Regions from separate parts of the Homo sapiens genome. Here region 2 is reported to be linked to region 1. The links are microRNA targets in miRTarBase. Many come from high-throughput screens and were not tested one by one. Region 1 holds a microRNA gene; the other region holds the end of a gene's coding sequence.

Evidence for each region. Region 1 holds the annotated microRNA hsa-miR-6866-3p (GAUCCCUUUAUCUGUCCUCUAG, at 1,085-1,106, shown strand). A microRNA usually pairs through its seed, bases 2 to 8, with sites in the 3' UTR of a target mRNA and lowers its output. Matches are read on the target gene's strand: a 7mer-m8 pairs with bases 2 to 8, a 7mer-A1 pairs with bases 2 to 7 and ends in A, and an 8mer does both.
Region 2: the mRNA of SEL1L3 is a reported target of hsa-miR-6866-3p. Seed matches in the 3' UTR shown: 7mer-A1 at 1,186-1,192.

Annotation. Positions count from the first base shown.
Region 1 is chr17:40,160,896-40,164,305 of GRCh38, forward strand. MIR6866 (microRNA 6866) reads left to right here and starts at 1,038; the gene lies at 1,038-1,106. It overlaps CASC3 (CASC3 exon junction complex subunit), which reads left to right. Exons shown (of 14, transcript NM_007359.5): 4 at 858-1,016; 5 at 1,107-1,258; 6 at 1,830-2,006; 7 at 2,586-3,271.
Region 2 is chr4:25,745,387-25,748,796 of GRCh38, reverse strand. SEL1L3 (SEL1L family member 3) reads left to right here. Exons shown (of 24, transcript NM_015187.5): 24 at 233-1,364. The coding sequence ends at 372. Among named protein-coding and RNA genes, the nearest start is that of SLC34A2, 91 kb to the right of the region's middle.

The sequences.
Region 1 (3,410 bases):
TGTTCCAGGAATACCTATGTGGATATATATGTATGTATGTGTGTATTTTTTTTAATGTGATATTTTTAAAATAGTGTCTTTTTTTTATTATTACTATTTTTTGCGACAGAGCCTTGCTCTGTCGCCCAGGCTGAAGTGCAGTGGCGCAGTCTCTGCTCACTGCAAGCTCTGCCTCCCTGGTTCAAACGATTTTCCTGCCTCAGCCTCCCGAGCAGCTGGGATTACAGGTGCCTACCACCAAGTGCGGCTAATTCTTATATTTCTAGTAGAGATGGGGTTTTGCCATGCTGGCCAGGTTGGTCTCACACTCCTGACCGCAGGTGATCTGCCTGCATTGGCCTCCCAAAATGTGATTACAGGCGTGAGCCACTGTGCCAGGCCAAAATAGGATCTTTATTTTCTAGAAATATGGGTAAGAATATTGATTTGTTTGCTTTTCAGTTCTATGTTGTACTAAAAATTTATTGATAAATGTATTCCTAAAGAGTAGAAAATTGAAATGCAGCCAGGCACGGTGGCTCACGCCTATAAACCCAGCACTTTGGGCGGCCAAGGCAGGCAGATCACGAAATCAGGAGTTCAAGACCAGCCTGGCCAACATGGTGAAACCTGGTCTCTACTAAACATACAAAAATTAGCCAGGCGCGGTAGTGGGCGCCTATAATCCCAGCTATTTAGGAGGCTGAGGCAGGAGAATTGCTTGACCCCTGGAGGCAGAGGTTACAGTGAGCTGAGATTGTGCCACTGTATTCCAGCCTGGGTGACAGAGACTTTGTTTTGGGGTTGGGGGCAGGGGTGGGAATTAAAATGCACCGTTCAGATCTTATATGCATCGCTGACAGGGAAACTTTTTTCAGGGTGAAGAAGGTGAATACAGTGAAGAGGAAAACTCCAAAGTGGAGCTGAAATCAGAAGCTAATGATGCTGTTAATTCTTCAACAAAAGAAGAGAAGGGAGAAGAAAAGCCTGACACCAAAAGCACTGTGACTGGAGAGAGGCAAAGTGGGGACGGACAGGTTAGTACATTCCACAGTCCTCCATTTTAGAGGCTGGAATAGAGATTCTTGAGGCTTGGAAGAGTAAGGATCCCTTTATCTGTCCTCTAGGAGAGCACAGAGCCTGTGGAGAACAAAGTGGGTAAAAAGGGCCCTAAGCATTTGGATGATGATGAAGATCGGAAGAATCCAGCATACATACCTCGGAAAGGGCTCTTCTTTGAGCATGATCTTCGAGGGCAAACTCAGGAGGAGGAAGTCAGGTAAAAGCCACTTGCTGCTGCTGCTGTCTAACATGTATTTTACACATGTAGGCCAGGTACTTCGATTTGCCTGTATTTCATTTATTACAGCATTTTAAGATAAGTATTATGATTATCCTTATCGTACAAATGAGGAAAGTAGGCTTAGAATATTTGGTAACTCTTGGTGAGGCAGCTAAGATACAGACCTAGGACAGTTTGTTTCCAGAACTCATCTTCTCTTAATTATTATACTTTTGCTTTTCTTAGTCTGAGGTGTAAGGCGTCTGAGAAGTGAAATACTTGCATAGGTTGCCTTTTAGGAGAAAGGAGATGTTTCAAAGGTACTGAATGGCATGAAATGAAGTCTTTTTCTCATTTCTGTGTCTGTTATATTTGAGCCCAGCAGGCCCTGAGGTTCTGTGATTCACGCTTGCTTTGGGGAGGCCTGTTTTTTATAATCTCTTTGGGATGATGAGGAGACTACGTAAAGTTCCTATTGTCCCCCTGCCTCCCTGACCCATTTTGTTCAAGAACATCTCTACTTGGAGAATTCTGCTGACCCAAGACACTTTTCCTTCATTTTATCCAGACCCAAGGGGCGTCAGCGAAAGCTATGGAAGGATGAGGGTCGCTGGGAGCATGACAAGTTCCGGGAAGATGAGCAGGCCCCAAAGTCCCGACAGGAGCTCATTGCTCTTTATGGTTATGACATTCGCTCAGCTCATAATCCTGATGACATCAAACCTCGAAGAATCCGGAAACCCCGGTGAGGACATTTTAGAACATAAGACCAGGCTGGGTATGGTGGCTTACGGTGGCTTACACCTGGAATCCCGGCACTTTGGGAGGCTGAGGCAGGAGGATTGCTTGAGGCCAGGAGTTCAAGACCAGCCTGGGGAACATAGTGAGACCCTGTCTCCAAAAAAAAAAAGAAAAAAAGGAAAAAAAAAATAGAGTGTAGACTCTTGATATCTTTTAGAAAGAATTCTCTTTGCTTTTCTTTTTATTTATTTATTTAAGACAGAGTCTCGCTGTGTTGCCTAGGCTGGAGTGCAATGGCATGTTCTCGGCTCACTGCAACCTCCACCTCTTGGGTTGAAGTGATTCTCCTGCTTCAGCCTCCTGAGTAGCCAGGATTACAGGCGCGTACTATCGCGATCGGCTAATTTTTGTATTTTTAGTAGAAATGAGGTTTCGCTATGTTGGCCAGGCTGGTCTTGAACTCCTGGCCTCAAGTGATCTGCCCGTCTCGATCTCCCAAAGTGCTGGGATTACAGGCCTGAGCCACCGCGCGTAGCCTCCTTTTGTTAATTTCCTAACAGTTTCTTCATTCCATTTTTTGTAGATATGGGAGTCCTCCACAAAGAGATCCAAACTGGAACGGTGAGCGGCTAAACAAGTCTCATCGCCACCAGGGTCTTGGGGGCACCCTACCACCAAGGACATTTATTAACAGGAATGCTGCAGGTACCGGCCGTATGTCTGCACCCAGGAATTATTCTCGATCTGGGGGCTTCAAGGAAGGTCGTGCTGGTTTTAGGCCTGTGGAAGCTGGTGGGCAGCATGGTGGCCGGTCTGGTGAGACTGTTAAGCATGAGATTAGTTACCGGTCACGGCGCCTAGAGCAGACTTCTGTGAGGGATCCATCTCCAGAAGCAGATGCTCCAGTGCTTGGCAGTCCTGAGAAGGAAGAGGCAGCCTCAGAGCCACCAGCTGCTGCTCCTGATGCTGCACCACCACCCCCTGATAGGCCCATTGAGAAGAAATCCTATTCCCGGGCAAGAAGAACTCGAACCAAAGTTGGAGATGCAGTCAAGCTTGCAGAGGAGGTGCCCCCTCCTCCTGAAGGACTGATTCCAGCACCTCCAGTCCCAGAAACCACCCCAACTCCACCTACTAAGACTGGGACCTGGGAAGCTCCGGTGGATTCTAGTACAAGTGGACTTGAGCAAGATGTGGCACAACTAAATATAGCAGAACAGAATTGGAGTCCGGGGCAGCCTTCTTTCCTGCAACCACGGGAACTTCGAGGTAGGTATCATAGGATTGGTGGCTAGCTTTTTCCCCTTTGCATCATCAGGTTTAGGGGCATGGGACTTCTGTCTCAGGAAGGTGGTGTCTGACAAATGTCTACTTCTTTTTTTTTGAGACAGAGTCTCACTCTTTTGCC
Region 2 (3,410 bases), not on the chromosome of region 1:
CGGCACTTGGAGGTGAAACTCTTGAAGGGTTTTTATTTAGAAATCAGATTGTCAGCATGTGGTGGCATCTTCTTAAACTTAGATAACGGGTCCAGAGTTGCCTGGCTAGTTAGTGTCAGGTTCATTAGACTAGATGCATCTCTCCTGGCTTGCCAGAGTCTCTAGGTGTGGTTGTACATTCTGAATGCACTGTTTTGAGTATTCAGCACCTGTTGTGCATGTGTCTCTGCAGCAAGCGATCCCCCTCCAAGACCATCCCAGGCCTCCCCAGACACTGCCACGTCCACTGCAAGTCCAGCTGTGACTCCAGCTGCAGATGCCTCTGACCAAGACCAGCCCACAGTAACTAATAACCCGGAGCCACGTGGGTGAACTGTGCACTCCAGTTCTCTCCAGATGAGAGAGAATCTTTTCAACAGCTGGTATTGGGAAGCTGGGGCCAGGGCATGATCCTGATAAACACCTTAAATGTCTTGTCAACTGGATGCAAATTTTGCAATTGGTGTCATTTTTTTTAAAGTCAAATTACAAGGAAGTACCCAGATCAGGCAGTGGTAATACCAAAGGTCATCAAACACATACAAGGAACATCTTGATCATAGGGCATGTGGGGAAGTTTACTGGGCCATCACAGACTTTTGTTCTAGTGATTGTATGTATTAGGAGTCATAGCATGCCCTACGGCAGATCTGGATTCTTATACACTAAGATGTGTCTTAAGAATCACAGTGCGTGCTTCATCCCTTTATTGAAGAACAGAAAATTATGACTACTCTACAAGGTGGATAATATTTTGGTACCTGTGCTTGCCACAGCCCTGTTCCTCAAAGCTGAATTGATAGATTTCTCTTTGACTTCCAAGACCTAGCAGTTATAAGGCACCTTGAAATAAATTGTTTGTGCCTGGAAATGCAGGGAGGGCAATAGCTTTGTAAATTGGTTTACATTTTTCTCCTTGAATTTTTCTAGGGTCCTAGTGCTTCCGAATCATTTAATGGCATTGTCGGATATCTTTTACATTTCAATTGCAATCCATGAAATTACATTTAGAAGATTCTTAGTACTTAACTGTAGTCTTCTCCATGAATTACACGTTAGAATAGACTGGCAGCAACGGAATATGCAGCAAGTAAGCCTCTAGCTTATAGTTTCATCCCTACCCCTCATGCCTGCGTGAGTCTGTACAGGGATATGTGTGTGTGTGTGTGTGTGTGTGTGTTAGAGAGGAAGAGGAAGAGCAGAATGTCTGTATACTACATGCTGCTAAGGTAGTGAATAAATCAGTAATGCAATATTGTGGGTCCAAACTACTCTTTGCACTACTTTATTTACAGTAGTAAATAAAATTATTTTTATACAATTGACTACCAGAAAGTGGTTTTTTTTCCCCTTTTTTATAATTACTGTCACCATATAAAGTCTAAAGGTCCATATATTCTCCTTGAGGAGGGAAAAAAGAAAAGTCCTCCTGGTGAGAGGGCTTATTTTTCATAACCCATTAATATTTGTGGATAGGAAGGTGGCAGGAGGCTTCTCTCCAGGAATCCTGAGCTCAGGTCTGGCCTTAGAATGTTCGCACAGTATCAGACATTGTTTCAGGGCTTTGTGCTGCTCTGAGCCTGGGCTCTATGTTCATTCCAGGCTAAGCTTGTAGTTCATCCTCCTCCTTCTCCTATGAGTGTTGCTCTTGTTTTAGCAAATGTTGTCCCTCCTATTTGCAAAAAAGCCAGAGATTGAAGGCTGACAGTCCTGGATTCAAATTCTGGTCCTGTAACTGACAAGCTCAGTAATCTTAGGTGAGTGATTAACCTTCTCTAAGTCTCAGATTCCCATACTATAAAATGGGGCGATGAAAACTACCTCTTGGGATTTTTATGAGGCTTACACGAGATAATATATGTAAAGCCTACAGGATAGAGTCTTGTATTAGGTCATTCTTGCATTGCTATAACGAAATACTTGAGACAGGGTAATTTATAAAGAAAAGAGGTTTTATTGGCTCAGAGTCCTGTAGGCTGTACAGGAAACAAGGCGCTGACAGCTATTTGACTTCTGGGAAGGTCTCAGGAAACTTTCAATCATGGCAGAAGGCGAAGGAGAAGCAGACATGTCTTACGTGGCTAGAGCAGGAGCAAGAGAGACTGAGGCAGGTGCCACAGACTTCTATTTATTTTATTTTTGTTTCTCTCTATAGATAGAGATCTATATCTATCTATATATAGAAAGAATATATATATTTAAATATATACATTTGAATATATATATTTAAATATATATATATATATATATTTAGATAATATTGCTCTGTCGCCCAGGCTGGAGTGCAGTGGCACGATCTCGGCTCACTGCAACCTCCCCCTCCTAGGTTCTGGTGCCTCAGCCTCCGAGTAGCAGGGACTACAAGCATGTGCCACCATGCTTAGCTAATTTTTTGTATTTCTAGTAGAAACAGTGTTTTGCCATGTTGCCCAGGCTGGTCTTGAATTCCTGAGCTCGGGCAATCCGCCTGCCTCAGCCTCCCAAAGTGCTGGGATTATAGGCGTGAGTCACCGCGCCTGGCCTATTATATGCTTTTTTATTTTTATTTTTTATATTTTTTGCCACACACTTTTAAACAACCTGCTCTCATGGGAGCTCACTATCATGAGGACAGCATCAACAGGACGGTGCTAAACCATTCATGAGAAATCCATCCCCATTATCCAATCACCTCCTGCCAAGGCCCACCTCCAACATGGGGGATTACATTTCAACACTGAGATTTGAGCAAAGCAAATATCCAAACTATATCAGGTCCTAAATATGGTAGGTCATTATTTTTATAACATAAGAAAGAGCAGTCTGAGGGGCCAGAGAGTGACTCTGCTCTGCTGAGATCCTCTCTCCATGGCAAACACACCCATTTCCAATCTGTTGGGAACATGAGCTGCTGACTGCTCACAGCCACACGCCACACTGGGAATTGCCCTAAGCTGCTGGGATCTGCCCAAGGGCATACCCTTGCAAGAGCAGCCCGTGGCCAGTGGCTCCTTGATGTAGGCAGAGTTTCTCAATCTCAGCACTATGGACATTTGAGCTGGATGGTTCTTTGTTGTGGGGCAGGGTTGTCTTGTGTATTGTAGATGCTAAACAGCATCTCTGGCCTCTAATGAATGCTGCAGTGGGCACTCATCACCCCTGCTTCCCAGTGTGACAGCCAAACACCTCCTTGGGAGCAAAATCACACTCCCTTCACCTTGAGAATGACTGATGTAGGAAAACAAAGGTCCCTTGCCTCAATTTGGAACAGTGCTGAACGGCAGGGCATCCCAGCTCCAAAACTCTACGTTGGTTGCAACCTCACTGAATGCAGCTTCTCACTCTGCTCAATTCTGCCTTCCTCACTTTCTTTTTTTTTTTTTTGAGACTGA